Homo sapiens: one gene and its partners. The protein of the gene in region 1 interacts with the protein of each later gene in a pairwise test. Each region holds a gene or a part of one and is shown in the gene's direction. Other genes may lie near its edges.

What was found.
Region 2: the proteins of KRT19 (region 1) and NFKBID interact in binary tests that used the Homo sapiens proteins (3 or more experiments, as listed by UniProt).
Region 3: the proteins of KRT19 (region 1) and CCDC146 interact in binary tests that used the Homo sapiens proteins (3 or more experiments, as listed by UniProt).
Region 4: the proteins of KRT19 (region 1) and IKZF3 interact in binary tests that used the Homo sapiens proteins (3 or more experiments, as listed by UniProt).

What each region holds. Positions count from the first base shown.
Region 1 is NC_000017.11:41,525,192-41,532,906, reverse strand, and holds the start of KRT19 (keratin, type I cytoskeletal 19), read left to right. Parts: upstream 1-4,598; 5' UTR 4,599-4,659; coding exon 4,660-5,079; intron 5,080-7,633; coding exon 7,634-7,715. UniProt on the Homo sapiens protein: Involved in the organization of myofibers. Together with KRT8, helps to link the contractile apparatus to dystrophin at the costameres of striated muscle.
Region 2 is NC_000019.10:35,897,480-35,905,459, reverse strand, and holds the start of NFKBID (NF-kappa-B inhibitor delta), read left to right. Parts: upstream 1-4,919; 5' UTR 4,920-4,957; coding exon 4,958-5,018; intron 5,019-5,716; exon of another isoform or gene 5,717-5,753; intron 5,754-6,637; coding exon 6,638-6,741; intron 6,742-6,927; coding exon 6,928-6,988; intron 6,989-7,603; coding exon 7,604-7,809; intron 7,810-7,980. Other genes in the region: TYROBP (TYRO protein tyrosine kinase-binding protein isoform 1 precursor), read left to right, coding at 826-891; HCST (hematopoietic cell signal transducer), read right to left, coding at 1,269-1,340, 1,557-1,810, 2,044-2,109, 2,824-2,866. UniProt on the Homo sapiens protein: Regulates the expression of IL-2, IL-6, and other cytokines through regulation on NF-kappa-B activity. Functions in the regulation of inflammatory responses.
Region 3 is NC_000007.14:77,272,507-77,279,808, forward strand, and holds part of CCDC146 (coiled-coil domain-containing protein 146), read left to right. Parts: intron 1-1,187; coding exon 1,188-1,283; intron 1,284-1,716; exon of another isoform or gene 1,717-1,861; intron 1,862-1,975; coding exon 1,976-2,146; intron 2,147-5,007; exon of another isoform or gene 5,008-5,069; intron 5,070-5,637; exon of another isoform or gene 5,638-5,846; intron 5,847-6,245; coding exon 6,246-6,334; intron 6,335-6,430; coding exon 6,431-6,595; intron 6,596-7,302. UniProt on the Homo sapiens protein: Essential for sperm flagellum biogenesis and male fertility.
Region 4 is NC_000017.11:39,791,019-39,798,320, reverse strand, and holds part of IKZF3 (zinc finger protein Aiolos), read left to right. Parts: intron 1-5,387; coding exon 5,388-5,648; intron 5,649-6,737; coding exon 6,738-6,905; intron 6,906-7,302. UniProt on the Homo sapiens protein: Transcription factor that plays an important role in the regulation of lymphocyte differentiation. Plays an essential role in regulation of B-cell differentiation, proliferation and maturation to an effector state.

The sequences.
Region 1 (7,715 bases):
CTTAACTGTCATATCATAGCAGGGTTTTAGGAAGGAGTCAAAATTGATGTAGCTATTGAACCTACCACATTTCACCAAAGCTAATACACTTCTATACACCCCCCTACCAGATTGTCAGCCTCTTAGAGGCAGGAAATATTTGTATTTACTTCTGTGCCCCAGCCCCTGGCAGCATGCGTAGCACAGAAGCTGCGCTTGATGCATGTTCACTGAATGAATGGAGGAGCGGGTGAGGAAGTTCCTTGTGCTGGTGGTCCCTGGGGAAGCGGAGGCCGTTCAGGTAAGGAGCTACTAATTGACAGGACATGCAAGCTCATGAAGTTTTCCACACATTTACCTTTCCTCTCCTCCAGATTATGAACAGAGCCTTCTGCTTTGCTCATGGACACGAGTCTGTCTCCTCTGCTAGGCTCAACTTGGAGGAAACTTGCTTGAATGGCCCACTGACTGACCAAACAAATAATTGTGCATCAGAGCAGGCAGGGCAAGTTGGGATCTTGGCAGATGATACAATGCCTTCCCCAACTTGGTGGCTCTTTCTCCAGGGCAGCAGAAGAAGGCACCTTGATCCCTTTCCCATGAGAGGAGGGCAGCATTAGCAATTGGGACTGTGGCTTGAGGGAGTGAAAGATTTTGGCCCAAATACCCAGTCCACTACTTACTTGTGTGACCTTGGACAAGATATTAACCGTTTTGAGCCTCAATTTTCTTGACTGTTAAATGGGGACAATAATACTTAATTAACATGATTCATTGAGATAATATATTCAGAGTGTTTAGCATGGAGCCTGGCCCAGTAGATGTTGGCTATGATTATCTACTGTATTATTATCACCTTGGTCATCATTATTCTTGTTGTCATTATCACACCATTCCATTCTATCCAAGGACTAGGTCTCTCACCCCCAGCTTCTTTCCTGTGGTCTCCAATGACTATCCCATTTCTCCTGGGATGATGAAAACCCCCCTACCTTTAACCTCTCCACTCTGGGAACCACCTGCATCTGCTGAAGGATAAGAAGCTTCATGTGTATGTCCAAGTGGAGAGGCAGAGGGGGCCTCAGCCTCAGTGTTAGGAGTTAGAAATGAATCCCAGATCTGCCTCAGTTCAGTCGGTTGAATCATCATGCGACCCCAGGAAAGTCACTTTACCTTTCTGAGCATCCTGGGGCTGGACTGGCTTTTTCTGTAATTCATGGGTTATTAATAGATATTTAAAGATTCCATGGTCCAGTGCACTTGGGAAATACTGGTTAAAGAAAGTTAAATAATAACACTTGTAGCCAAAATTATAGTAACAAATACTATATAAAAATAACATTATATAATAATAATAATAATGCTGTTTGAGTGCTATTTGCCAGGTGTGATAAACCTTTTACAAGCACCATTACATTTATCACTTGAAGCAACCCTCTGAAATAGGTATCCTCCTCCTCCTCCTCATCATCATCATCTCTATTTTACAAATGAGGAAATGAGGTTTCCAGGGCTTCTGGTACTGTGCCTTGTGAAACTCCAAAAGAGAGTCAGAGAGAGCAGAGTTTCCGATCTTATTTGACAGGGATCTTTTTTCCTGCAGGGATCTCATAGTGCTGGGGTTCTGTAGAATCCAGTTGGGGAAGGCTGGGCAGGATCCTCCCTGGGATTCCTTTGAGCTCACCATTCCATACCCATCACTTCTGACCCTCTGTACCCCTCTTCTGCAGACCCCAGACCTGAGACTGGAGACATGAACATTGGATGGATGCTCCTCTGACCAGGTTCTGCCCTCCTGAAGCCAGAGGCTGATGGGAGCCTCCTGGTTGTGAGCACTGTTTCCTAAATGGGAGCAGCAGCTTGACCTCCAGTTCCATCTCTGGGTAGGGCAGCCTCTACAGACTGTTCTCCTGAGTCCTTGATGAATCAGAAAGTGCCAAAGGCCACATACCTCATGGCCAGGCACTGTTTCTGGCCAGAGAGAGGGAACAAGGTATTCTCCCTAGCCCAGCCAACAGTTCAGTCTGGGGTTGACTGCCCTTGGCACTGGCATGATAAGATTTTGAGGGAAGGCACCCAAAGGAGTTGTTTTGGGGGCCGAGACTTCCTTGGAAGGGAGAGCAGGGCCTCCGTTACTCTTGGCTGATGGTCAAGAAGCTGGAGGCCAGAATCTGATACTCCTAGCGGTGGACCTTTGGCAAATTACTGCCTCTCACCAAGCCTCTGTTTCCTTATCTGTAAAATGGAGATAAGAATACCTTTTCCACTGGGCTGCTGTGAGGATCCAGTGAGATCTGAAAAGGCTCTAAACTGTGCTACCCTGTAGTCAACTGTCCTTCTGTTTATGGTCTTAGAGTAGGGGGCTGGGACTCCAAGTGCCTCTGAAGGTTAGGGAGCTCAGAACACCTTAATCTTACGAATGGAACTGTTGATTCTATTCTTTGCCCTTTAATACAAAGTCCCTCCCCAGACCCCCCTATCAGGCCAGAAAAACAGAGCTGCCTATTGGGGCTTTGTGTGCATGGCAACTATCTGGCCAATCTCCCTTCCCGCTAACAAGGAGCAGGCCTCCTCATCAGTGCCTGATAAGGGAATGACTCAGAGCTGACCAGTCACAGGGTGCTGGCTTTTATGGCTGGTCTTGGACTCCCCTTTCTCCCTCTTGGGCTCTCCAAAGACCTTCAGTCTTTCTGCAACTGATTCACTAGTTAAACAGCCTCAGACTGGCCTTCCTGAGGGCTCAGAGCGGTTCCTGGTGGGTTAGGGGTGTGTATTTACGGGGTTTCCTGCCCCAGTTCAAGGATGAGTTGGCAGCTAACAGGTAGTTTGCTGGGAACTTAGGTTTCCGAGGCTGGAGACAAGTCTCCACCAGTCACAGGTGACCCAGGTGATAATACACAGAGAAGAGGGCTGAGCTGGGCCACCCCTCTTTTCATGAGGGAAAACTGAGACCCAGAGATGGGCAGGGACTGGCCTGTCTCCCTTAATACCTTCTCAGGAGGGCCTCTGTTCCAAGCCTGGGTGAATGCTTTGCCATAAGGACAAGAAGGAACCATGGGGACAGTTCTGGGGACGGGGGTCACTGGGGACAGGAACTGGGGTGAGGTTGTTGCAGCGCCCTGTAGTGCCTGGCAGGGGGCATGGCCCTCCAAAGAGATCCAAAACGGTGGGTGGAATTGTTGAACAGAGCAAGGGGTGGGGCTGTGTGGGGAGGAAGGCCCTGCCTCTATTGTCAAAACCTTTACCTTGTGCCGGGCACTTTGTGTCGCTCTGCCCAGCTCATTCAAGCACTCATCTTTATACAAGGATGAGGACATGCATTCAGCAGCCCTCTGACAAGGAGGGCAGGGATTCATCCTATGTTTGCCTTTCAGTGGCAGATGCTAAATGCCTCATGGGCAAGTTACTGGCCTCTCCCAGGCTCTGCTTCCTCATTTTGGAAATATTAAAGCAGCCCAATACTCCTGTGGTTGAATGAACGCATGCTTTGGGGGATGGAAGGGAGGGGATCATCCTGGTGGCCAGGGACGAGTGGGCTTTGAGGGTTCCAGAGTGAGGATCAGGCTGGAGCTTAGTGTTGGAAAGGTGTCAGCTGCCAGAACCGCTCCCTGCAGCTGTTCTCAGGAGACTGTTGTCACCTGGGGCACTGAATGGCGACAGCAGGGTGAGGCAGCTTTGTCTTGAGAGGGCTGGGTTCGTGCAGCTCAAAATGCCCGGATGTGCCCTGATCCGGAACTGGTGCCTTTGTCAGAGGGGACAAAAGGGGAGTTGGGCATGGGTGTTCCCAAGAAGCTGGTTCTGAGAGGCTGTAATCTCCAGTGGAGGGCAGGAATCTGTGAATGCACTTTGTGGGGGGCGGGCTGGTTAGGATCGCAAGCAAGGGGCTCTTAACAGGGAGCACTCTGAATGGTTAATCACTGGGGCTGGGCGCAGGGGCTCACGCCTGTAATCCCAGCACTTTGGGCGGCCCAGGCGGGTGGATCACTTGAGGTCAGGAGTTTGAGACCAGCCTGGTCAACATGGTGAAACCCTGTCTCTACTAAAAATACAAAAATTAGCTGGGCGTGGTGGCGCGTGCCTGTAATCCCAGCTACTCCGGAGGCTGAGGCAGGAGAATCGCTTGAACCCGGGAGATGGAGGCTGCAGTGGGCCGAGATCACACCACTGCACTCCAGTCTGGGCGACAGAGACTCGTCTCCAAAAAAACAAAAACAAAATCACTGGGTCAGGGGTGTGTAGGAATATGACCCCAGAGGGACTGTAATTCCCAGTGGTGTCAAACTCTGGGTGATCTTAAAGGGTGAGGCTCAGAATGTGGCTTCCAGGGACAGGGGTGTCCAGGTATGTCCCTGACGGGGGAAAGGCCAGAACAGGGTCTGCAGAGAGAGAGTGGGGGAGTGCGGGTCGGAGCTTCTGCGCGGACCGGGGCGGGGCACCTCTGGAGGGCAGGGGCCTCTGGTCTCTGGGAGGGGAGGGAATTGACCAATGGGGAGAGAGCCCATATTTGCTCTCAGGAGCCTGCAAATTCCTCAGGGCTCAGATATCCGCCCCTGACACCATTCCTCCCTTCCCCCCTCCACCGGCCGCGGGCATAAAAGGCGCCAGGTGAGGGCCTCGCCGCTCCTCCCGCGAATCGCAGCTTCTGAGACCAGGGTTGCTCCGTCCGTGCTCCGCCTCGCCATGACTTCCTACAGCTATCGCCAGTCGTCGGCCACGTCGTCCTTCGGAGGCCTGGGCGGCGGCTCCGTGCGTTTTGGGCCGGGGGTCGCCTTTCGCGCGCCCAGCATTCACGGGGGCTCCGGCGGCCGCGGCGTATCCGTGTCCTCCGCCCGCTTTGTGTCCTCGTCCTCCTCGGGGGCCTACGGCGGCGGCTACGGCGGCGTCCTGACCGCGTCCGACGGGCTGCTGGCGGGCAACGAGAAGCTAACCATGCAGAACCTCAACGACCGCCTGGCCTCCTACCTGGACAAGGTGCGCGCCCTGGAGGCGGCCAACGGCGAGCTAGAGGTGAAGATCCGCGACTGGTACCAGAAGCAGGGGCCTGGGCCCTCCCGCGACTACAGCCACTACTACACGACCATCCAGGACCTGCGGGACAAGGTGGGCGGAGGCCCGGCCGCGGGAAGTGCAGTGCACCTGCCGCGGAAACCCAGCCCCGCGGGCCGGGCGAGGTTCCAGGCGGGGCGGCGGGCAGGAGCCCGTTAGGACGTGGGAAGGTCCACAGGTGGGGCCGAGTAAAGGGGGACAGGAGACGTGCGGGGCAGGACCTCGGGGCTGGATGCAGAGGCCGGGGTGGTGGAAAGGGGAGGAGAACTGGGCAGGGCAGATAAGTGGGTGGGGCCTCTGGAGGTGGCGGGGGCAAGGTTGGAGCCCCGGGACGAAGAAGGGACGCGGGTCAGCGAGGCCTGAAGAGTGGGAGGAGATGGGACCCGGCTGTAGAGTGCCCAGAGGTCTAGGCCAGGGGCCGCGCTGCCGCAGGAAGATGCGAGAGTTTGGCTTTGGTGATCTGGTCCACCCGGGGCCAGTCTTGCCCCCTCTGCCACCGCAGCGTAGGGCCTCCTGCATTCCGTTTCTCTGGCCGGAAGGGTCTAGTGTTCATCCCTCTCAGGCTTTGGCCTCCTCCCACTCTCCCGCCCTGGGGCCCATTCGTTTAGGAAGAATGGGAGAGCCGGTCGTGGCCCCTGGGCGGGGTAAAGGAGGGAGGCTTGGTAAACCTCTGCTGGGGAGGACCCAGTACAGTGGCAGCTCCTTGTCGGGGAAAGAACGGATCTGCGTCACACGCTCTTACAGGGGAACCCTAAGGGGCCTGAGGGGTAGGGCTTGGTCTCCACCCAGAGGGAAGGAGAAATTTTTCGAGTCGTAAAGAAATGTATCAGAAGCCATGGAACATTTACAGCCGCACACGCTGGGTCTCCCAACAAACAGATCCCCAAAATATTTTCCAGTGCTGTACTCGTGGCATAGACCCAGACCCACAGACCAGGAGGAAGCGCTAGAGATGTCAACAGCCAACAAAAACAGTGCTTTACACACTTGTAAAATTGTGACCTACAGGGGCTGGGCACTGTGGCTCACGCCTGTAACCCCAGCACTTTGGGTGGCCAAGGTGGGAGGATTGCTTGAGCCCCAGGAGTTCGAGATCAGCCTGGCAAACATGGTAAAATCCTGTCTCTACTAAAAATACAAAAATTAGCTGGGCGTGGTGGTGCATGCCTGTAATCCCAGCTACCTGGGAGGCTGAGGCAGGAGAATTGCTGGAACCCAAGAGGCGGAGGCTGCAGTGAGCCGAGATTGCGCCATTGCACTTCAGTCTCGGCCACAGAGCGAGAGTCCGTCTCAAAAAAAAAAAAAAAAAAAAAAAAAAAGGAATTAGCTTGGCATGGTGGCGTGTGCCTTGCAGCGAGCTGTACGTGATCAGTGCCACTGCACTCCAGCCTGGGGCAACACAGCGAGACCCTGTATCAAAAAAAAAAAAAAATTGCGACAATAAGTACATTTTACTACGCACCCTTACGCATTCTTTTTCTCACCTCTGTGTGTGTGTGTGCGTGCACATGCACACACACAAATGGGTGACACAATTCTCACCATACTAAGAGAAATCCCCTCTGATATTTTGTAGCCTATTCTGTTGCATTAAAAAACTACACAATCGGCCGGGCGCGGTGGCTCATGCCTGTAATCCCAGCACTTTGGGAGGCGGAGGCGGGCGGATCACGAGGTCAGGAGATCCAGACCATCCTGGCTAACACGGTGAAACCCCGTCTCTACTAAAAATACAAAAAAAAATTAGCTGGGCGTGGTGGAGGGCGCCTGTAGTCCCAGCTACTCAGGAGGCTGAGGCAGGAGAATGGCGTGAACCCGGGAGGCGGGGCTTGCAGTGAGCCGAGATCGCGACGCTGCACTCCAGCCTGGGTGACAGAGCGAGACTCTGTCTCAAAAAAACCCCAAAAAACAAAACCAAAAAACCCCCCCAAAACACAAAACTATACAATCACCACCTGGTGCCTTGACTAATGAGTGATGACCTGCTCTTTGAAAAACAGAACACAATTACCTTATTCAATGATAAGCTGGCTGTTGTGAATGCGCCTCTTAGGTCAGTAAGACCTCAGGTTGGGGTGAACTTGGATGAGGCATCATCCTAAACTTTAGTTTCCACCTCTGTAAGATAGGAGTACCCACTGACCTAGCAGTGAGGTTCCAGAAGCTATAAAAGATGAGATTCAAAGTGCCTGGCACATAATTGATACTCAACAAATGGGATTCTCTTCCCTGGGGGCAAAATATGCTTCGCATAGTGGGGGGGGCAGGTATAGACAAAATCTACCCCCCATCTGGTTTATAGACCCCCTTCAGGCCATTTAGAGTTTCATTGCACACAGGTCTCAGAGATTTCCTCCCCAGGCTTGCCTTCCTGCCCTCCCCCACCCAAGTCCCCCTGGCTCCAGTTTTCTTCCTGCCCCAGCTTCTGGGCATGGACTGTTTGCAAGGCCTCCCAGAGAGCGGGCCAATGGGCGGCAGATGCTGGCTAGGGCTTTGGTCTCTAGGGTGCCGGGGTATATTCATTTGCTCCCCTCTCTCTTCTGGGAAGAAAGTGAGTGGGCAGTGCCTGTGTGTTGAACTGGTACCAACCTCTGCCTCTGCCTTCCAGATTCTTGGTGCCACCATTGAGAACTCCAGGATTGTCCTGCAGATCGACAATGCCCGTCTGGCTGCAGATGACTTCCGAACCA
Region 2 (7,980 bases), on another chromosome or scaffold:
TTTTTAACCCTTTAGGGGGTCATGAGATTCTCTAAGACCTCTCCCCTGAAGAATGCACGCCCAGACTAGTCATCATATATGATTTTAGGGTTTCTGTCTGAGGCCTGCCCCTGGGGGCCACATAGATCCTCCCCCTACCCCAAGTGTGAACACTGCTGTGTGAAGTCTGATATATTGTCTGCAACCAGCTTTGCCTATTCACCTCACTTGTGGATAAAGTTTCTTTGTGAAGTCTAAGAATCTCAGGTTTGGCTCTGTGATATCCAGAAGACCGAGGGGCCCTTCCAGTTACTGGTGGCAGTGAAATTTTAGGGCAAAGCATTACCCGGATGTATTTATTCCCTCTGTGGATGTGTCTAGCACCTATAAGTGCTAAATGCTGGGGACACAGTGACAGAGTTTATATCCTAGTTAAGACAAACTTAAAGCAAATGAACAAATAAAATAATTTTGGGAGGCACAGTAAAGGAAATAAACAGGCTTTTTTTTTTTTTTTTACAGTGGCTGGAGTGTGGGGGGAAGAAACTACAGAGGGGAAATTGAGAAATGCCTCTCTGAGGAGGTGACGTGAGCTGAGACTTGAAGGGAGAGGGGATCTAGGGGAACAGAGTTTTAGGCAGAGGAAACAGCACACGCAGGGACCCTGAGGCTGGGGCACACTGATGAGGCAGAGGAGAAGGGGGAACATTGAATGTACTTGAATAAAATCCGGATCTCTTTCATGGCTATAAGGCTGAAGAAGCTGCCAGGGGCCTTGCAGGCCACTGGGAGAAGGCTGGATTTTATTTGGTGGGTCCCTTCCACTGATGGCCCCCATTCCTTTAGGAGCTCCAGGGTCAGAGGTCGGATGTCTACAGCGACCTCAACACACAGAGGCCGTATTACAAATGAGCCCGAATCATGACAGTCAGCAACATGATACCTGGATCCAGCCATTCCTGAAGCCCACCCTGCACCTCATTCCAACTCCTACCGCGATACAGACCCACAGAGTGCCATCCCTGAGAGACCAGACCGCTCCCCAATACTCTCCTAAAATAAACATGAAGCACAAAAACATTATGCCAGATCCTTGGGCTGATGGGATGGGGACATGTGGGGGTTCTGAGGGGGCCTTGGATCCAGAAACAGTTCATGGGAGGGAGGCTTTGGGAACTCTGGGGTTCTTTGAGAAAGAATACGACTACAGGTGTTTCAATTGTTTTATTACAATCCAAAAGTTGGGGCGGGGGTTCCTGTGCCACCACACACCATCCAGGATGAGAGGGTCAGAAGTCAAAGGTCCAAGCTGCAGGAGGGTCAGCCCCTGCCTGGCATGTTGATGTAGACTTTGCCATCTTCTGGGGATAGGGGAGAGAAAGCATGAAGCTTGACCACCCATATCTCCACTTCCCTGGGGACCCCCTGCTTCAGGGGTTTCCTCAGGGGTTCCCCCAGGCACCTCCCCCAGGGTTTCCCCAGCACCTCCTCCAGGGCTTCCCCAAGGGCCCCCTCCCTGGGACCCCCTCCCTAGGGACACTATACACCTTCCAGGCCCCGCCCATCTCCGCCCTCACCTTGGGCGGGGCTGCGGCGTGGGCGTGCGCACAGGAACACCGCCCCCACGATGAGCAGCGATGCCACCGCATCAGCAGCCACGAGGCCTGCCAGGAGCGGCAGAGAGAGGGACCCACATCCGGAACAAGAGCCTGGAGAGTGGGGGCCGGAACAGGGAGACAACTCAAGCTCTGCGTCCTGGGGCTGTGCTTTGGCCACAGGCAGAGAGGAAGTCCCCTGCGAGGGGGCGGGTCCCAGGTTCCTTGGAGTTGCGCTTGGGGAATGAAACGGGAGACAGATGCAGAGAGGCTGGGGTGTCCCAGGACCCTCGGGGCTGTGCGGCGGGCACACGGGGTGCTCCTGAACACAGGCTGGGGGTCGCTGATTCTGGGACTCGGAGAAGGACACGGATCCTCTGATTTGGGGACGGGAGGTGGGATGGTGACCTGGAGAACCACTGGGGTGTTCTGGGAGCCTCTGGCCAAGCTTCTGGGGTGGAAGTGATACCTGAAGTGCCAGGGTAAAAGGCAGGGAGTGATGATCTCTCTCCTGGAGTCGTCTGAGCTGCAGCCACTGTGGAAAGAGAAAGAAGGTGGATGAGGGTGGAGAGAAGGTCCACAAAACAGAATGCTCAGCCTGGCACCGTGGCTCACGCCTGTCATCCCAGCACTTTGGGAGGCCGAGGCAGGAAGATCGCTTGAGCCCAGGAGTTCGAGACCAGCCTGGGCAACATAGTGAGACCTCGTCTCTACAAGAAATACAAAAATTAGCTGGAAGTGTTGGTTCACACCTGTAATCCCAGTTACTCGGGAGGCTGAGCTGGGAGGATCACCTGAGCCCAGGAAGTCAAGGCTGCCGTGAGCCGTGATTGTGCCACTGCACTCCAGCCTGGACAACAGAGCAAGACCCCATCTCAAAATAAACAAACCAAAAAATAGGGTGTAGAGAAGGAAAGGTAGTGTCCTGAGAAGTAATCTCCAGGCTGGAGAGATGGAACAGGACCACATGGGAAGGGGACTCCCAGAGACATGGAGAGTGACAAGAAATTGGAAGTGGCAGCAGAGACCCAGCCATGAGAAGGGGACGCTAACAGGCAGCCCCTCCAGAACTCCCTGTCTCACCCCCTTCCGCCCCCAAGGACCCAGGCCCTGAAGCAGAATGGATCTCCCAGAAGGGAAGGGGTGCAGGGAGAAGAACCCCACTTTCATCACCCGTCCCTGCAGACGTCACCCAAGCACCCATCTCACAAACGCTCTGCCTACCATCCCCTGTAACCACTGGCTTCACCTGGGAGCAAAAGCAGGAAGAGGATGTGACCCAGATGGATCATGGTGGACTGGGGTCTGGCAGGGGTCTGGCAGAGGACTGTGGTCCAGAGAAGTCCAGAGGAACTGTGGGGGAGCAGAGAAGTAGCAATAGCGGATGTCACCCTGCTGGTGTCAAGGCCATCTGCTTCCTGTGTGTGTTGAGGGGGTGTCTCCGTTACTGCCTTTGGTGAACGAACTCAGGGGGAGGGTCAGAGAGACCAGGGAGGCTGCTGGCCTGGTCCAAGTGGGAATGACAGGTGGCAAGGGTGTGCAGGCTAGGGAGATCTGGAAATATTTTGGAGGTAGGGCCAAGAAAATTTGCTGATTAAATGAATGTGGGTGTGTTTGAGAGGGATCCTAGACAGCCAAGCCTTCTGGCATGAAACGCTGAGAAGATGGGAGTGTCTGCTGGCAGAGATGAAAGGTAGGGAAGTGGGTTTGCGGGGAAAGTGACGAGGTTTGGGCATACAGGGTTGGAAATGCCTGACAATCTCCCTGTGGAGATGCTGAATAACCTCACTGCATTTAGGAGTTCAGGGGATAAGGCTGGTCTGGAGATGTAAATTTGGGGGTTGATGGCTTATGGATGGTACTTAAAGCCACAAGACTGGGTGAGATCACCAAGGAAGTGAGTGCAGACAGGATTCTGCCCCTATCACAACACACACTGAATGGGGGAAGAGGAGGAACTTTGCCAGGGAAATGGAGAAAGAGGGAGGGGACCCCTGAGAGCATGGCATCTTGAAAGCAGGGGAGAGGCCACCGCAGTGGCTCATGCCTGTAATCCCAGCACTTTGGGAGGCCAAGGTGGGGGGATCACCTGAGATCAGGAGTTCAAGCCAATATGGTGAAACCCCGTCTCTACAAAAATACAAAAATTACCCGGGCATGGTGTCAGGCTCCTGTAATCCCAGCTACTTGGGAGACTGAGGCAAGTGGAGGTTGCAGTGAGCCGAGATCTCACCACTTTGCCACTGCACTCCAGCCTGGGCGACAGAATGAGACCCTCTCTCTAACAATAAAAATGTAATAATAAAATAAAATAGAAAAGCAAGCAAGCAGGGGAGAAATAGGGCCAACATGGTCAGTGCTGTGAAAGGTCACCAAGTGAAACTGAGAGTGGCCTCCCACTGGAATGCCAGCTCCAGGGCTGGGAATTCCTGCCTGCTTAGTTCACAATACACAGCAAAATGCCTCCTCTGCTGCAATAAATTATTTTAAATGATGAATGAGTAAATGAAACCAGACCTCTAAAAAGGGTGATGTAGGGGAGAGGGAGAAATTGAGCCACACCCTATACCCTTACCCACAGACCCTTCCTCTGGGAGTCTAGACCCCCAGTCCTGCCTCCCTCTGGACCCAGTAATATTCTCCCTGCCCCCACCCCATCTCCATCCCCACTCCTACCCCTACCCCCATGGGCAGGACCCAGGAGACAAAGCCTCCAGCACCCCCTTAGACACAGACCCAGAAATCCAGGCCCCAGCCAGGCACCATGGCTCAAGCCTGTAATCCCAGCACTTTGGGAGGCCAAGGCAGGCGGGTCACCTGAGGCCAGGAGTTCGAGACCAGCCTGGCCAACACGGTGAAACCCCATCTCTCCTAAAAATACAAAAATTAGCCAGGCATGGTGTCCAGCACCTGTAGTGTCAGCTACTCGGGAGGCTGAGGCAGGAGAATCGCTTTAATTCAGGAGGCGGAGTTTGCAGAGATCGCACCATTGCACTCCAGCCTGGGCGACAGAGACTCCTTCTCAAAAACAACAACAAAAAAAAAAAAAAAAAAAAAAGAAAAGAAAAAAAAGAAAAAGAAAAGAAAAGAAATCCAGGCCCCCCGGTTTCTCCCTCCTCTTGGAGCCCGGTGCCCTAGGCTCCTTCAGAGCAAAGATCTGGACCCCAGCTCCCTCCTTCCCGGGGGGACTGAGTAGTCCGCCTCCCAAGTCCGCCGCGCCCATTCAGGGACTGCGTTCGCCGGAGCGCGACCCGGGGACTCCCAGGCCTGTGGGCGGGCCCTGCCCAGGACTGGGCGGTGCCATAACCCCTAGTTTAAAAACTCGCGGGTACCGGACCCAAGATCGGGGACCCGGCGGCGGCTCCGCGGGGGAAACAGCGAGGCTGGCGCAGCGCCGAGGCCGCGGCCCTGGGGGCCCGCAATCCACGCCACGGAATCCCCGAGGTAATGGGCGCGGGCAGGACGCGTTCGGCCCCCTAAGAGAGTGAGGGACTGAGGATCGAAAGACTCCCGAGGCCCTGAGGGACGGAGCTGAAGCGTCAGTCCTTTATCCCGAGAGTGAGGGCCCTAGGTGTTTGGAGGAGGAGGGGATCGTGGATCGTGACAGAGGGGCGGCTGGGATCCCAGACTTCTGGGTCCTGGGGGTGCAGGGGCCTGGGGATCCAGGATCGCAGGGCCCCGAGGGTGCAAGGGCTGGGAGGCTTGGGAGGCTGGATCTCTGGGTCCTTGGAGGTGCTAGGGGTTGCTGGCAACCGAGACTCCTACCCCTAGAAGCAGGGACTAGGCTGAGTGCGGGGGGGGGGGGGGGGGGCGTGGTTGCTTAAAATCGGCGTGGGTCTCGGTGGGGAAGGGTCCGGAGCCTGGCCTCAGGGTCTACGCTGGCGGTGACCCTGCCTCTGCCCCGCCCTGGGATTTCCGGATGGCCACCCGTGCGGGGCTGAGCAGGAATTCCCCTTGCGCGGGGATTCCACGAGCGCCACGATCGGCCGCGCGCCCCGCCTCGGAGCAGGACACCTGGGGCACAGGACTTGGGGGGAAGGGGAGGATGGAAGATTCCCTTGCGTGAGCGCCGTGGCGTCAGCGCGCCGCGTCGGGGCTGTTTCCGAGCCACCTCCTCCCGCCCCCGCCCCGCGCAATCCCCACTTAACCCTTCCTCCGCCGGAACCCAGGCTCGGAAGGGTGAGGGTTCTGTCTTTCTGAGTCGTGGGAAGGAGTTTGGGAACTGGGGCTCCCAGGTCCTAGAGAGGAAGGAACTGAGGGTCCAGATTCCTGGGGCCTGAAAAAGAGACTGTATGGATGGGCCTTTTTTTTTTTTTTTTTTTTTTTTTAATGGAGTCTCTCTCTGTCGCCCAGGCTGGAGTGCAGTAGCGCGATCTCCGCTTACTGCAACCTCAACCTCCGCCTCCCGGGTTCAAGTGTTTCCCCTGCCTCACCTGGGATATACAGCCGCCTGCCACCACGCCCGGCTAATTTTTATATTTTTAGTAGAGACGGGGTTTCACCATGTTGGCCACCTGACCTCAGGTGATCCGCCCCCCTTGGCCTCTCAAAGTGTTGGGATTACAGGCGTGAGCCACCGCTCCCGGCCCGGGGTGAGGCCTTTGACTTCTCGAGGAGGGGCGCTGGGGACTCCTGATTTCCGGGTCAGGTTCTAGGGAAAAAAATGTTGGGAACCTGGATGTGAGTCTAGGGAGTGACGCCTGGCGCCGGCCCCCCACCAACCCGCTGACTTCAAAACTTGGATATCTGGGGGTGGAATTTTTTTACGGAAGTGGGGTGGTTGCTGCAGAGGGGTGCCCTCCTCCCCCTTCCTCACTTTCCGCGACGGTGGTGGAAAGTTGGGTCAGAGGGAAAGTGCGGAGCAAAAGGAAGGAAACGGCGGAGGCGGATGCCCCACCCCAAATCTTCTAATGGCTTTGGAGGAGTCAGGCGGCATCTATGTGCCAGTTTTTCCGCGCGGGAGGGCGAGGAGGGTGCCCAAACCCACTCCCCGCGCGCCACCCCCGCGGCATTTAGGTGACTTAAGGACCCTTGATGACTTCCCCCTCTCCTCTCCCGCACAGTGAGCAGGGGTGAGCGCAGCCACTGCCCAACGCAAACCGTGAAGAAGCTTCTGGAAGAGCAGAGGCGCCGCCAGCAGCAGCAGCCCGACGCTGGCGGGGTGCAGGTGAGGCCAGGGAGCCACAGCTCTCCGGAGGCCCCGTGCTGTCCCGTAGGGACTCAGCGGCTTGCCGGGCCCTCGGGGCTGATGAGAGGGGTGGTCCTGACCGAAATGTCTTATAGATCCGAGACAGACCCGGAGGAATCTGCCAGATAAAGTCACCTGGGTTCCTTTTTGCTTTTGTCTCTACAGGGACAATTTCTCCCTCCCCCAGAGCAGCCCCTGACCCCATCTGTGAATGAGGCTGTGACTGGTAAGTTCTCTCAGCTCCCGGCCTCCCCATCCCCCTTCCCTAAGGGACTCAGACATCGCAGCTCTCAGAACTTTGGGACACCTGGGAGTCAGGCCCTCATTCTTCCCTTTTTTTTTTTTTTCTGAGACAGGATCTCACTCTGTTGCCCTGGCACTGGAGTGCAGTGGCGCTATCTGGCTCACTGCAGCCTCAACCTTCTGGGCTCAAGTGATCCTCCCGCCTCAGCCTCCCAAGTAGCTGGGACCACAGGCGATGCCACCTTGCTTGGCTAATTTTTTAAATTTTTGTAGAAACGGGGTCTGGCTATGTTGCCTAGGCTGGTAGGCCCTCATTCTTGCTGGAACTCAGTAGCAGTCTGATTTCCTAGGTTCTCTTGAGTCCAGTAGTCTATGCACATAGTCCTACGGAGCCCCAGGGCCCAGGCTCAGCCTTTTTAGTGCCCCAGGAGTCCAGGCCCTCAATTCCTCAGTGTCCCAGGAATCCAGGTCCCGGGAGCTTGGTGTCCCAGAAGTACTAACTCTCAGTACCTTGGGAGACGCCAGGCCCTCTAGCCCTGGATGTGACGTCCCCAACTCTGGTAACCAGACCTGCCCCTGCCCCTCCTCTTACACGCAGGCCACCCTCCCTTCCCAGCACACTCGGAGACTGTGGGTTCTGGACCTAGCAGCCTGGGCTTTCCAGACTGGGACCCCAACACGCATGCTGCCTACACTGACAGCCCCTACTCTTGCCCTGCTTCTGCTGCCGAAAATTTCCTGCCTCCTGACTTCTACCCACCCTCGGACCCAGGGCAGCCGTGCCCATTTCCCCAGGGCATGGAGGTGAGATACAGAGTGGGTACAGGATGCTGAAGGGCCCCTAAAAATTCGCAGTTGCACTCCTGCAGTATTCTGAGATGTCTGGAGCTCAGTTACGATTCCCTTTTCCAGGCCGGGCGTGGTGGCTCACACCTGTAATCCCAGCACTTTGGGAGGCTGAGGCAGGCGGATCAC
Region 3 (7,302 bases), on another chromosome or scaffold:
AAATTTTGGCCATTATTCAACCTTAGGGCCTACAAGTGTGTGCTGTCACAGTAGGAACTGAACCACATCAGATTGGAGTCATGAGCTTTTGGTGTAAATAGCCAACTCTAAACTTGCTCTAAGTCAAGTAGGCTGGAAGCACCCCAAGATGACCCTCCCTGTAGCCTTGAATGGTACCCTTTCCCCATCAGCTGCCACATGTCCTCCTCTCTACTCTCGTCTTCATCACAAAGAATCTGACAAGCTCATTCCTAATAGGGCAACAAAGACTTAAAGAGTGAGATTTGCCTTTTCCCTAAAGTACGTCAACACAGGAGAAAAGTGCAAGCCGTTACAACAGAAATGTAATGGTGAAATTTTAGGTATCAACCAAAAAGTTGAGGCTTTTCTTTTGTGTAAGAAATTTCCAGCTACTAATCAAATGACTATATATAAGTAGCAAACTATCCCCACTATTATTAATAAATTACATATTTTTCTTTATCCTATACAATTTCATAAATGTACTCACATTTTATAATAACTATAATTTGAATAGTCATAGTATATTCATGTCTCCAAAGTGCTGGGTCATGAGTTAGATGAGTTAGGCAGATCATGGGTTCCAAGTCTACCTCCCTGGGTTTACACCTGCACCATTGAGGCAAGTTGCTTAAATGTGTTTGTGCCTCATTCTCTTCATCTGTACAATTGGAGAAAATATTCCCCACCTCATGAGGGGTATTGTAATGATGAAATAAGATCGTATACACAGGCATTTAGAACCTTGCTGGACACTTGGTTTATGTTCAATAAATGTTAGCTATTAGTAAGATTTATTTCTAAATAATAAACATTTGCAGCTGGCAAATTATAGATTTTTGGCAGGTCTTCATATTTTAATTTGCCATGGCTTATAAAGAATATTTGGCATAAAGGGAAGTTCTTATAAGATTGAGATTCGTGATTTGCTCAGCATTTTCAAAAAGTGTGTGATGAGGTTGACTACACAGCAGTGAATTTTATTTATTTATTTATTTATTTATTTATTTTCAGACAGAGTCTCACTCTGTCACCCAGGCTGGAGTGCAGTGGCACGATCTCAGCTCACTGCAACTTCTGCCTCCCGGGTTCAAGCAATTCTCTGCCTCAGCCTCCCAAAGATTTATTTCTTACATAAATGCATGTTTTTAAATTTTGATTTCCAGATGGAAGCTATCCCCAAAGATGATTCTACATTATCTGAGAGAAGGCGAGAGCTTCACAAGGAAGTTGAAGTAGCTAAGAGGAATTTGGCCCAACAGGTTAATATCAATGCTCATTTAAGCTTCTATCTAAGAAGCGTTCATACAAAGTTGTGCTTTTAACTGTGCTCCACAAAACCTTATCAATAAGAGAGTCATCAAAGAGAGTATGATCCTGCTTCATGTGGGCATATTTCTTCATCTCAAAGTCCACTCCAATCCTACACTAAATTTGAGAAAAAAGAATATGTTTGAACCGCAAAAAGTATTCAAAGGAATGAGATTTTTAAATTATGGGCTGTTGATTACATTAAAAGTAAACCACAGATGTTTTATTTCACCAATGTCTAATTTCAAATTTTCGTTTGTTTTTATGTGTCTTCTTTTTCTTAGTCACTTGAAAATACAGTCTAAATACAAAGAGGTTCTATCATGTTAACCCATCGATTTTCACATTATTTTACAAAATGAAAACAATGAAGCTAAAACACCATTACTTTATTTTTAATTTTTATTTTTTTTATAGAGAGGGATCTTGCTATGTTGCTCAGGCTGGTCTTGAACTGCTGGCCTCAAGTCATCATCCTGCCTCAGCCTCCCAAAGGCTTGAATTACAGGCGTGAGCCACCACACCTGGCCTGTTTAAAAAAATACATTTTGTATAGGAAGTAAAAAGGTAGTCTAAGATACTAGCTTTACTGTATTACTTCAAACAAATAACTTATAATATTATCTGTGTTTTTTTTCAAAAGAAAATTATATCAGAAATGGAGTCTAAGTTAGTAGAACAACAACTTGCAGAAGAAAACAAGCTTTTAAAGGAGCAAGAAAACATGAAAGAGCTAGTAGTCAACCTTCTCCGCATGACTCAAATCAAAATTGATGAAAAGGAACAAAAGTCCAAGGATTTCCTGAAAGCTCAGGTAACTGCATTTTTTTAACCATTCATTGATAACTACAAGAGTTCAGGGTAGCCTCATTATAATGCCACGTGCATTAGGACATGGATGAAGCTAGAAACCATCATTGTCAGCAAACTATCGCAAGGACAAAAAACCAAACATTGCATGTTCTCACTCATAGATGGGAATTGAACAATGAGAACACTTGGACACAGGAAGGGGAACATCACACACCGGGGCCTGTTGTGGGGTGAGGGGAGCGGGGAGGGATAGCATTAGGAGATATACCTAATGTAAATGATGAGTTAATGGGTGCAGCACACCAACATGGCACATGTATACATACGTAACTAACTTGCACATTGTGCACATGTATCCTAGAACTTAAAGTATAATAAAAATATATAAATATTAAAAAAAGAACTGGAAGGAAACTCAAAAAAAAAAAGAAAAGCTATACAATTGACCCTTGAACAACATGGATTTGAACTGCATGGGTCCATTTATACACAGATTTTTTTCAACCAAATGCAGATCAAAAGTAGAGTACTCACAGAATACAAAACCTGCAAATATGGAAGGCCCACTTTTCTTACAGGTGAGTTCCACAGGGCCAACTTTGGGACTGCTTGAATATGCTTGGATTTTTGTATTCTCAAAGGGTCCTGGAACCAGTTCCCTATGTATACCAAGGAACCACTATAACTGTGCCTCTCCTTCAAGTACCAGTGACTATAAATCTTCCCTAAATGAGATTCAATCATGCACTGAAAGATAGTCCCAAGATTCAATTAACAGTAATCAACAATTTAGATGGGAAAGGAGATCATTGATAATGATCGGAGGATTTGAACAGATGGCAATTTCAGTAAGAATAAAGTGGGTGCCTCCAGTGGACAGGGCTGGCAGCTGCATAGGCTGCAGATATCATTTAGTTTTCACTCCCATCTCAGACTCCACTGTGATTTGTCCAGGAACAACTCAAGAGTGGTAGCATTAGGTAACTGTCCCTCCCAACTTCATCAAGACAGCATCATTTAATCGAATGCCAGATACCCTTAGTTGCTTCATCACACCATGATTTTCCTGGGCCTCCTACAAAGTGCCAGTGCAACATTCCCCCCTAAAATCAACAATAAAACAAATGGTAAGGCAGCACTCCTGTCATGCAAGCTAAAATTCTACCATTAGAATTGTTTATTCCATATAAGGATTATGTCCAGATCATGCCCAGAAGCTCCCTGTTAAAAATAAACAGGATATTACATATTACTAAAATAGAAGAATTTATCAGGCCAGGCATGGTGACTCATGCCTGTAATCTCAGCACTTTGGGAGGCTGAGGCGGGTGGATAACTTGAGGTCAGGAGTTTGAGACCAGCCTGACCAACATGGTGAAACCCCATCTCTACTGAAATACAAAAATTAGCCAGGCATGGTGGCAGGTGCCTGTAATCCCAGCTACTTGGGAGACTGAGGCAGGAGAATCGTTTGAACCTAGGAGGTGGAGGTTGTAGTGAGCCAAAATCGCACCACTGCATTCCAGCCTGGGTGACAGAGCGAGACTTCCTCTCAAAAATAAAAAAAAAAAAGAATTTATCTCATGACCCAGATGTGGTCTGTTTGGTCTGTTTCTAAGCACATCCCTTGTTCTCAGTCTAAGTAAGGATTTACATAGAATGGTATTTCTTCTCATTCTGCAGAAAGAGCTCACTCACGCCAAAGCATTAGTGAGCAATGAGGTATGAAGTAGATTTTTGCAAAAAAGAGAAGATCTACATTGCACAACCCACTGCAGGCACTTCACATCCCCCTTTCACTGTTTATTTTTCTACTTTAATATTTAAGAAACTAAAAGAAGTTCAGGATGGCTGGCACATGGGAAGATGGGGAGAAAGGATGTCAAATAGTGAGACCAGAGAGCGGGACAAGTCAGATGATGAAAGTCACTTAATCCATGTTAAACAATTTAGACTCCATAATGAAGGCTGCAGCAAGAGTGAAGTTCATGGAGTAGTTGGGTTTCACTAGGTAAAGAAGTGGTCAGGGAGGACTGGATGAAAGAAAGGCAGCTTCAAAGCACAGGGTGGCTAAGCGGGTAAGATGCAGGAGCAGGACAAGGAGAGGAGAGAGGAGAGATGTGGGAAGATCATCTTGGGCCAGGAGCGGTCTCTCACGCCTGTAATCCCAACACGTTGGGAGGCCAAGGCGGGTGGATCACCTGAGGTCAGGAGTTCAAGACCAGCCTGCCCAACATGGTGAAAGCCCATCTCTACTAAAAGTACAAAAAATTAGCCTGGCGTGGTGGTGGGCACCTGTAATCCCGGCTACTCAGGAGGCAGAGGCATGAGAATCGCTTGAACCCAGGAGGCGGAGGTTGCAGTGAGCTGAGATTGCGCCACTGCACTCCAGCCTGGGTGACAGAGCGAGACTCTGTCTCAAAAACGAAAAATAAAGAATAAGAAGGAAGGAAGGGAGGGAGGGAAGGAAGGAAAAGAAGGAAGAAGAAAGCCATCTTCACCAAGTCAGGGTCTGGGACAACTTGGTGTTGGCTGGGAAGATCCCACTCAAGTGAGTCTTTCCTAGTTAGAAACTTCCTCCCTTTTCTCTTTAGAAATTACAGAAACACCAGAGGTATACTTATTTGTTATAAGAAACACTGATCCGTTTTATGAATTAGATAATTTTCAATTAATTTCAAAAACTGATATACATGTATATCTATGTGTGACTAATCTATGTAAAGCAAACCTCATTATTAAATGAGCTAATTTGTATTAAACCAAAATAGACAATTCTTCTTGAGATACAGAAATTGATAAAGGACAAATGTTTATCCCTTGAGTATTTTTAGCATTAGGAATTAGTGTGTTAAACATTACCTGTACTTAGCTGCAGTTTCCATAAGAAGGCAATCTTTTATGTTCACATTGCATCCACATCCCTAAAGACAAAGGTGAAGAAAAAAAAACAATGTCACTATCACCCCTAAGACAGAATAGATGACACTACATTTTCCCATCTGTTTTATTATTCATGTGTACAGTTACTTAAATATTCGTTTCTTCCTGACCCCTATTCTCATGGAGAACAGCATTAGAAAAATGCTACACATCAATCTTGGCTCTATGGCTAGTTTCTTTCAAATCACTCATACCAAAAGGGCTTTGCTCTCAGTCCTTGAGAGAAGGCTGACAAACTCTTTCCTCTGGTTTACTACCAGCAAATCCTTCATTTTTGAATATGTTTCTTATCCCAGATGCAAGAACCAGTATCTTTTGATTTGAAGAACATAACTAGTGTATTTAGCACTTGATATATTTTTTAGAACTCTAGAAATATAACTGCTTTCTTTTAAAATATTTATGTGTAACACCTCCTTACAGCTGATCTCAATATGATGCCTTATTATGTAGGAAAACACCCCACATACAAAAGAATGGAAAGCACTTTAAAATCATTGCTTCAGTCTCTGACAAAACACCACAGAGGGTTCAGTTTATAACACTCACCAAAACTTACTAGGAATCCTCTTCTCTCATCTATTTTCCATAAACTACACTCACCCAGTCCAGCTGTGTGGTTCAAAATCACTCTTCCTCTCTCTCAAAAGTTGTCCAAACTTTTCCTCAAACCCAAGCCATGCAGGCTCTTTGCGTTTTCTCTTCTCTCGTTTGTTCTCTTCTTTAGGTAACAGTTAACAGTTTGTCTTAGCCAATGTGAATCAGTTCAGCTAGCCAGGGAATTTTCAGATCTCTTTTACCCTTCACCCTGATCTGTACAACCCAGCAAGCCAAGAAATAATTTTTTTTTTTTTTTTTTTTTTTTTGGAGAGACAGGATCTTACTTTGTCGCCCAGGCTGGAGCGGAGTGATGCAATCATGGCTCACTGCAGCCTCGAATTCTTGGGCTCGAGCGATCCTCCCACCTCAGCCTCCTGAGTAGCTGGGACTACAGGTGCACACCACCATACCCAGATAATTTTTTTATTTTTGTAGAGATGAGGTCTCACTATGTTGCCTAGGCTGGAGAATTGTCTTTAATGGAAGGGAATGATGTGGGATAAATCTGGGAGTGTTCATATGTTGTTATTTATTTCACATTTTTTTGTACATTTCAGCAAAAATACACCAACATTGTTAAAGAAATGAAAGCAAAGGATCTTGAAATCAGGATACACAAGAAGAAAAAATGTGAAATTTATCGGAGGTAAAGTAATTATGTGGTGTTTTATCTACGTAGGTGAGGGGAAAAAAACCTGATGTTCATTTCATAAGTTTCAGTAAACACTTTGTATTTTTACAGACTGAGAGAGTTTGCTAAACTGTATGACACCATTCGAAATGAAAGAAACAAATTTGTTAACTTACTCCACAAAGCTCATCAGAAAGTAAATGAAATAAAAGAAAGGCATAAAATGTCATTAAATGAACTTGAAATTCTGAGAAATAGTGCCGTTAGTCAAGAAAGGTAAGTGTTATAATAACTATTGGCCTTTCAAAGGCTTGTTTTCTGATTCATTTGAACTCTAAAAATCCTGGGGATAAGAAGATAGGAAAGAGGCAGAGGCTGCAATGAGCCAAGATGGTGCCACTGCCCTCCAGCCTGGGTGACAGAATGAGACCCTGTCTCAAAAAAATAATAAAAATAAAAAATAAAAAGAATAGTATTTTAGAAAGCCAGAATTAGAAATCCAGAAAAAGCCCTTGTTCAAACATCTTGTTTTATAGATGATAATCTACCATGCTTCTACTCTTTGGGAGTCATTTTTTTAATGAATGAAAAACCATAACATATAACTATGCTTACTATGATGATTTTCACCTGCCCAATTAGAAAGAAAAGCACAAATCTAATAATTGGGATTGGGAAGTTAGAAAACAATCAAATCGTTTGTTAACCAACATCCCCTGATTGTAGATGTAAAGCATCTCATGTGTTGTGGGAGGCAATACGTTATAGCAGATTGGTGAAAGAGGTGGTGTCCAGACTCAAATACCACCCCTCCCACTTATTACCTCTGTAACCTTGGACAAGCTGCTTTGTCTCTCTGAGCTCACTTTCCTTATCCATACCATATTTCATGCGACATTTTACTGTGAAATGAGCTAATTCATATAAAAACACTCAGAAAAGCGTCTGGCAAATGGTTGTTTTCTTCATTTATTATTTACCAT
Region 4 (7,302 bases), 1.7 Mb from region 1:
TTTGTTGGCAGTGGAAAATATTGAAGAATTTTGACAGGGCTATGACATGACCAGAGGTAGAATTTAGGAAGAGCAATCTTGTAGCAACAAACAAGACGGGCTGGAAAGGAGAAAGAAGGGAGCCAAAGAGAACAGTGCGGGGGCTACAGCAATAAGTAGATCGTGGGAAAGTCATAGGGTCTGAGAATTAGGTAATGGGCATGCAAAATACAGGAGTGGAGAAACAGATTAGAGATTGGATACACAGATAGAACCACTGAATGATTGAATGTGGGGCCCAATCAGGAGAAAGGAAAGATGACTCTAAGGATTCTAGCCTGAGTAACTGGGAAGATACCTAGGAAGCCTTCAGAAATAGAGGACTAAAGAAAGGGAGAGAGGTTACACCTGGAGTTATATATATGGAAATTAATCATATAAGATGTTAGTCGAAGCCTTAAGAATGAATGAAATTGCCATACAAGAGGGGTGTAGAGGGAAGAAAAAAGAAGGTTAAGGACAGTATTTAGGATGCAGAGGGAAGAAAAGGGGCAAGAAGGAAGCAATCAGAAAGGCAAGGAAAGAAGGTACATTTTCATTGAAGAAATAGGAGTGCAGGGGCCGGGCACGGTGGCTCATGCCTGTAATCCCAACACTTTGGGAGGCCAAGACAGGTGGATCACCTGAAGTCAGGAGTTCGAGACCAGCCTGGCCAACATGGTAAAACCCTGTCTCTACTAAAAATACAGAAATTAGCCAGGTGTGGTGGCACGTGCCTATAGTCCCAGCTACTCGGGAGGCTGAGGCAGGAGAATCGCTTGGACCTGGGAAGCAGAGGTTGCAGTGAGCCGAGATCGCACCACTGTACTCTAGCCTGGGCAACAGAGTGAGACTCTGTCTCAAAAAAAAAAAAAAAGAAAGAAAGAAAAGACATAGGAGTGCAGAAGAACAAGGAATGGTGAGTGGTCAGTAGTGTTGAGGATTACAAAGAAGTTGGAGAGAGTGGCATACAAAAAGGCTCTGAATCTAGGAATCAGGAGATTATGGTTGGTGATATTCAAGGGAGCAGATTAAGTGAATTGTGGAGGCGGAAGCCATATTACAGAGAATTCTGAGTCCTTTTTGAGGCTGTAGAGGCAGTAAGCATAGCTTACCTATGTCTTTTTTTTTTTTTCTTGAGACGGAGTCTCACTTTGTCACCCAAGCTGGAGTGCAGTGGTGGGATCTCAGCTCACTGCAACCTCCACTTCCCAGGTTCAAGCGATTCTCCTGCCTCAGCCTCTTGAGTAGCTGGGACTATAGGCGCACACCACCACGCCTGGCTAATTTTTTTGTATTTTTAGTAGAGATGGGGTTTCACCATGTTAGTCAGGATGGTCTCGATCTCCTGACCTCATGATCCACCCGCCTCGGCCTCCCAAAGTGCTGGAATTACAGGTGTGAGCCACCGCTCCTGGACCACCTGTGTCTTAAATCTGTCTAGAAAGGAATGTTGAGGCCGAGCGCAGTGGCTCACTCCTGTAATCCCAGCAGTTTGGGAGGCCGAGGTGGGTGGATCACGAGGTCAGGAGTTCAAGACCAGCCTGGCCAAGATGGTGAAACCCCGTCTCTACTAAAAAAAAAAAATTAAAAAAATAGCCAGGTGTGGTGGTGGGCACCTGTAATCCCAGCTACTCAGGAGGCTGAGGCAGGAGAATCGCTTGAACCAGGGAGGCAGAGGTTGCAGTGAGCCGAGATCACACCACTGCTCTCCAGCCTGGGCAACAGAGTGAGACTCTGACTCAAAAAAAAAAAAAAAAGAAAGGAATGTTGAGAGAGGATGAATTTAGGTATGATGTGATGAAAGGTGAAACCAAATTGCAAAAGGAAAGGAAAAGAGGAGTTGGCACCTAGAGAGCCTGAAGACATAGAGTTGATAGATCTTGGAGACTGACTTGATGTAGAAATTGAAAGAGAAAAGGTTCCACAGTTTGATGGCTTGGAGACTGGAAGAAGGGTGATGCCATTTGTCAACATAAATAAGTCATAAATTAGAAGCAAGTTTGGGTTCAAAGATGACAAGTTTGATTTTAGACATGTTCATTAGTATTTTCTAATAGAATTTTTCTAAGTAGAACACCCCTTTTCTCTGCTTCAATAAGTCTTCCAGGGAATGGGATGAATCTCTTCATTAGAGCAGGCTAATGCCTTTCCTGGTTTTGGTGGACTGTGTTTGGAGGCTGAGTACTAAGCCTAATATCTCTCAGGAATCTCATTCATACCTTAAATTCTAATTTATTTTATTTTATTTTATCTTTTTTGAGATGGCGTCTCGCTCTGTCGCCCAGGCTGGAGTGCAGTGGTACGATCTCGGGTCACTGCAACCTCCACCTCCCAGGTTGAAGCGATTATCCTGCCTCAGCCTCCCCAGTAGCTGGGAGCCACCATGCCCAGCTAATTTTCTATATTTTTAGTGGAGACGGGGTTTTGCTATGTTGACCAGGCTGGTCTCAAACTCCTGACCTCAAGTGATCCACCTGCCTTGGCCTCCCAAAGTGCTGAGATTACAGGCATGAGCCACTATGCCCAGCCAGCAATTTATTATGGCTTACCTTGAGAAGGTAACAGAGTTGAATATTAGAATAAATTAGAATCTGGTTGGACACGGTGGCTCAGGCCTGTAATCCCAGCACTTTGGGAGGCCAAGGAGGGTGGATCACTTGAGGTCAGGAGTTCGAGACCAGCCTGGCCAACATGGCGAAACCCCGTCTTTACTAAAAACACAAAAATCAGCCAGGCATTGTGGTGCATGCCTGTAATCCCAGCTACTCGGGAGGCTGAGGCAGGAGAATCACTTGAACCTGGGAAGCAGAGGTGGCAGTGAGCTGATCGTGCCACTACACTCCAGGCTGGGCAACAGAGCAAGACTATGTCTCAAAAAATAAAATAGAATAAAATAAAAATAAGTTGCTAATCCCCAGTAACCATGCAGAGAGGTCATCCAGGTCATTCATCTAAAACTGGTAAGACTCCAAAGGCAAACCAGCAACTATGTAAGCCCAAAGGACTTCTCTAATGCCCTGTCCCTGTGTCCTTATGTCCCTGGGTCTCAAATACTGTCTTCCTTGCTCTATAGCTGACTCCTAAAGGACTAAAGCTAAGATCTGCTCTTGAGCCAGGATGGTGTCGTATTGAATTCCAGGTCAGGCCAACTAAAGCCAAAATCCTGAGGGAAAGGAGCAGCTCTCTTATGTCCTCTGTTTTCAGAAAGACTCAACACATTGATCTTACTACATTTTAAAGTTCAGTGACCATGGAGTGGCCTGAGTCTGGTCATGTTCACATTTTCTAACCAAAATGGAAAGGATCCTTTTCTGCTGGCCTTTTCTATCTGCTGTTTTTGGTTTTAAGTAGCTGAAATTTTCCGTTGAGGTTCTTTTAAACGCCTACATGCAAACTGAAGAGCACTCAAGCTTTGGTGGGATATTACCCACAGCTGGAGTGATGGAGGAAGGGAGGCAAGTACAAGCCTCAGGTGCATCCTTCTCTTAAAAAAATAAAAAATAAACACTTAAGCAAACAAATTCCACTTGAAAGCAGGGAAGACCTATCCAGAGAAAGAAGTAAACCTCTTTCCAAGTAGGAAACAGATATCATTTCTTATATAATCCAGATCCATAGGGTGGGCAAATTTGAAACATGTTGGACTTATCCTACAGCCCTACATCTTTGCTAGTCAAAGAGTGAAAAGTTGTGAACCATGAACTGTGGTAGGAAGCAGTGGAACTGTGTGGCAGCCCTGGCTCCTCTGATGGTGGTTAGGCCCTGTCTTGCTCTATTAAGCAAACACAGTTAATATAGATGAAAGGTAACCTTGATAGAAGTGAAAATTGAAACTTGGGTTGAAGGTAGCAAGCCAGGCACAGCTGCAGTTGTACTTCCTCCTATGCAGCAAGAGGAGCAACACTTACTGATGTTTTTTGGAAGGGATGTAGTTTTTTAAAATATCTTTTTTCAGACTGTTTTGGGTTTTAACATTTACACCATTGATGGGAGGGTGTGTAATACAGTTGGTAAGAACCCACTTAGGCCTTATATGTCTAGTGCATGAGGTCAAATCCAAGTAATTGATAGTTCAAGCTTAAGTTTTGCATTCTAATCACACCTCTGCCAGTAACTGGATGTGTAACCTTCGACAAATGACCAAAAACATCTCTGCTCCCAGATTTCCTCATCTGAGAAACAAGAGGGTTGGATTAGATGACCTTTAAATTCCCTTCCAGCCCTACACTCCATTGATTTGTGATTCCTCATGGGGAGGTACAACTTTTGATTTCTAAGGACCAATGGTTGAAAAAGTAAGCATTTATATAGCATATTTTATATATGCAAAATCCCTTACAAATGTTTATTATTCTTACATCAGGCAAATTTTTAGGTTTTACTAGTGTCAGTGCAAGTACATAAATTTGCCTTCTTTGTTTCTTATGTTCTTCATATTTTTCCCACGTTCTTCATATGTTCTTATGCTCTTCATGAAGAGTATTACAGCTCTTCTTTTAAATTTCATTCATTTACATTGCAGTTCTTAAGATAGTACTTGGTCAGCCAACTCACTTGAGCCAGTCCCTCCTCTCCTATCCAGTCCTATTACACAATCCTTGAGTCCTTGAGTTTAGTTCTCCCTAACTTGGGACCTAATGGTCCTTCCCCTTATTTAGATTGAGCCCCACTTACCTGTGTCGATGAAAGTGACTCCTTAGGTTATATGAAAGAATTACTTTTCCTTTTGTCTTTCTCAACACTTTTTCATTAGTACTGACAACTTCCTCTACAGTCAATGTTGTGCCTTTATCAGCTCCAAGAGAGACAGAGATAAGATGTGTTTTAGCAATTCATATACGTGGAAGGGGAAGAGGCAATGCATGGCTTAAAATTAGAAAAACTATGTTAACTAGTCAACTCTTAATCTTAATGGCTTACACTGGATGCATCTGAAGGATTCAAACAATATTTTCTCCTTGAAACCTAAGAGTACATCACCTTGCCTTTTTAACTGCAGCCACCAAAAACAGTACTAGATCTGAGAACCCTTCCTCTCCCCTAGTACTGGAGAAGAGTTGCTCAATGTTTGTTTCATGGCCACTTTGAGCAAACTTAGCTAAAATCTATTATCTGTAATTTTCTGGATAGCCTAAAACACTATCGTCTATTTTTATGTGTGTAAGTATGTGTGTTTTCCTCTGACTGTGGTTCTGAATTTAAATAACGTGCGGTCACGCTAATGGTGCTTTCTTGTTTTGTAGATGTACAGTGTTTTGTTAGCTTCGATTGGTATTTAATTGTCAGTTGTGGGTCTCTGCTGTTTGAGCTGCTTTGATAGCTTCAAGTATAGTCGTTGTTCATTTCTTGCATTTTCTTCCCTGCAGATGATTCAATGAAAGTGAAAGATGAATACAGTGAAAGAGATGAGAATGTTTTAAAGTCAGAACCCATGGGAAATGCAGAAGAGCCTGAAATCCCTTACAGCTATTCAAGAGAATATAATGAATATGAAAACATTAAGTTGGAGAGACATGTTGTCTCATTCGATAGTAGCAGGCCAACCAGTGGAAAGATGAACTGCGATGTGTGTGGATTATCCTGCATCAGCTTCAATGTCTTAATGGTTCATAAGCGAAGCCATACTGGTAAATAGTCTGCTTTTTTCATTCTTCTGAAAACTCTCCTAATGCAGCCACGTGAGAAATGAAGTGGTGGAATTTGGAACTTTTGGTTACTTTCATTGATTTTTGCTATAATGCTGATGTATCTCTCTCTCTGCATTGCTGTTCACTCAGTGCTTTTTATTCCTGCCTCACCATGCATTTGGCAAACATATTGCAAATGCTATGAATAAAAAAAGACTGTAGAGAGCACAGTGTTCTAGGTCAGCCAAATACTTTTTCTTCAGTTTCTAAGTAGGAGTTGAATTGTGTGATTTGCTTCTTAGCCATCTTTTGTATATTTTTGCATAACATTTTTAATAAGAGCAGATCTTCTTATTGTATTGGGTTCAAATTTGGTAAATGAAAGGACATAGTTTTTATTTCCAGCTTAAAATAATGTATCTTCAGACAATAAACAGGTAGTCTATAGAAATGCATACAAACACAACCATCGCACTTGAGCCAGTCGATTCCATCCCATATCTCATATGAAGACTTTAAAAAGGAGAATTTCTAGCCCTCAACACCTTGTAAGGACTTTAGTTTCTGGCTCTTTTTTCAAAGGAGATTATATTCAAAAGGAATACTAAAAAATTAGCCAGGCATAATGGCAAACACTGGTAGTCCCAGCTATTCTGAAGGCTGAGGTGACAGGCTCACTTGAACCCAGGAGGTCAAGGTTTCAGTGAGCCATGATGGGACCATTGCACTCCAGCCTGAGCAACAGAGCAAGAAGACCCTGTCTAAAAAAAAAAAAAAAAAAAAAAGGGAGTACCAAGTAATATAGTAATATAAAAACTTAGATCTAGAAAGCACTTCTAGAGCTGCTCTTGTTTCTTTGCTCTGATTCAATATGATACCTAAAATAGCCTTGCTAGTGGGTGCTTTTTCTCTTCTACAGAGGAGATTTCATAAGTAAGTCTTAGGCTTGCCTTGAAATGCAGCTCCCAACTGATCCCAATGTGAACAGTAATTGTCTAAAAGATGAGCTTTTCCCCTAGGCATCTAATCTGTGCATATGTTTCTCCACTTGCCTGTGACCAGAAATCTCCTTTTTTGTCCTTTTTAAAGGTGAACGCCCATTCCAGTGTAATCAGTGTGGGGCATCTTTTACTCAGAAAGGTAACCTCCTCCGCCACATTAAACTGCACACAGGGGAAAAACCTTTTAAGTGTCACCTCTGCAACTATGCATGCCAAAGAAGAGATGCGCTCACGGGGCATCTTAGGACACATTCTGGTAAGTGAGAGAAATGAGCATTCCTTGTCTAGGAAGTGCATTCCTCAGAGCCCAGTGTGGAAACTAGAAAGAGTTAAGTAGGAAGGTTTCAATCTGTCATTCTTGTTCTGAAGGGTTACAACAGCAGAGACCTCTAGGGCTAATTACACGACCATTAAGGCACTAATTGCTCTCCGTCTGCCTCAGTGGAGATGATCATCTCCTCACCATCCTTGCACCCATGGAGAACAACACAGTCAGATAGGAAGAGCCCACCCTATAAAAAATGTCCTTTTAATTTTTGTGAGAAAATTATAGCCATCAGTATTTTCTTCTGGTAAACTTTATTAGAAGATTATTTTCCCAACACACACACTCTTTCCATTCAAAAGACGAGACAAGCAAATGATGTACAGTT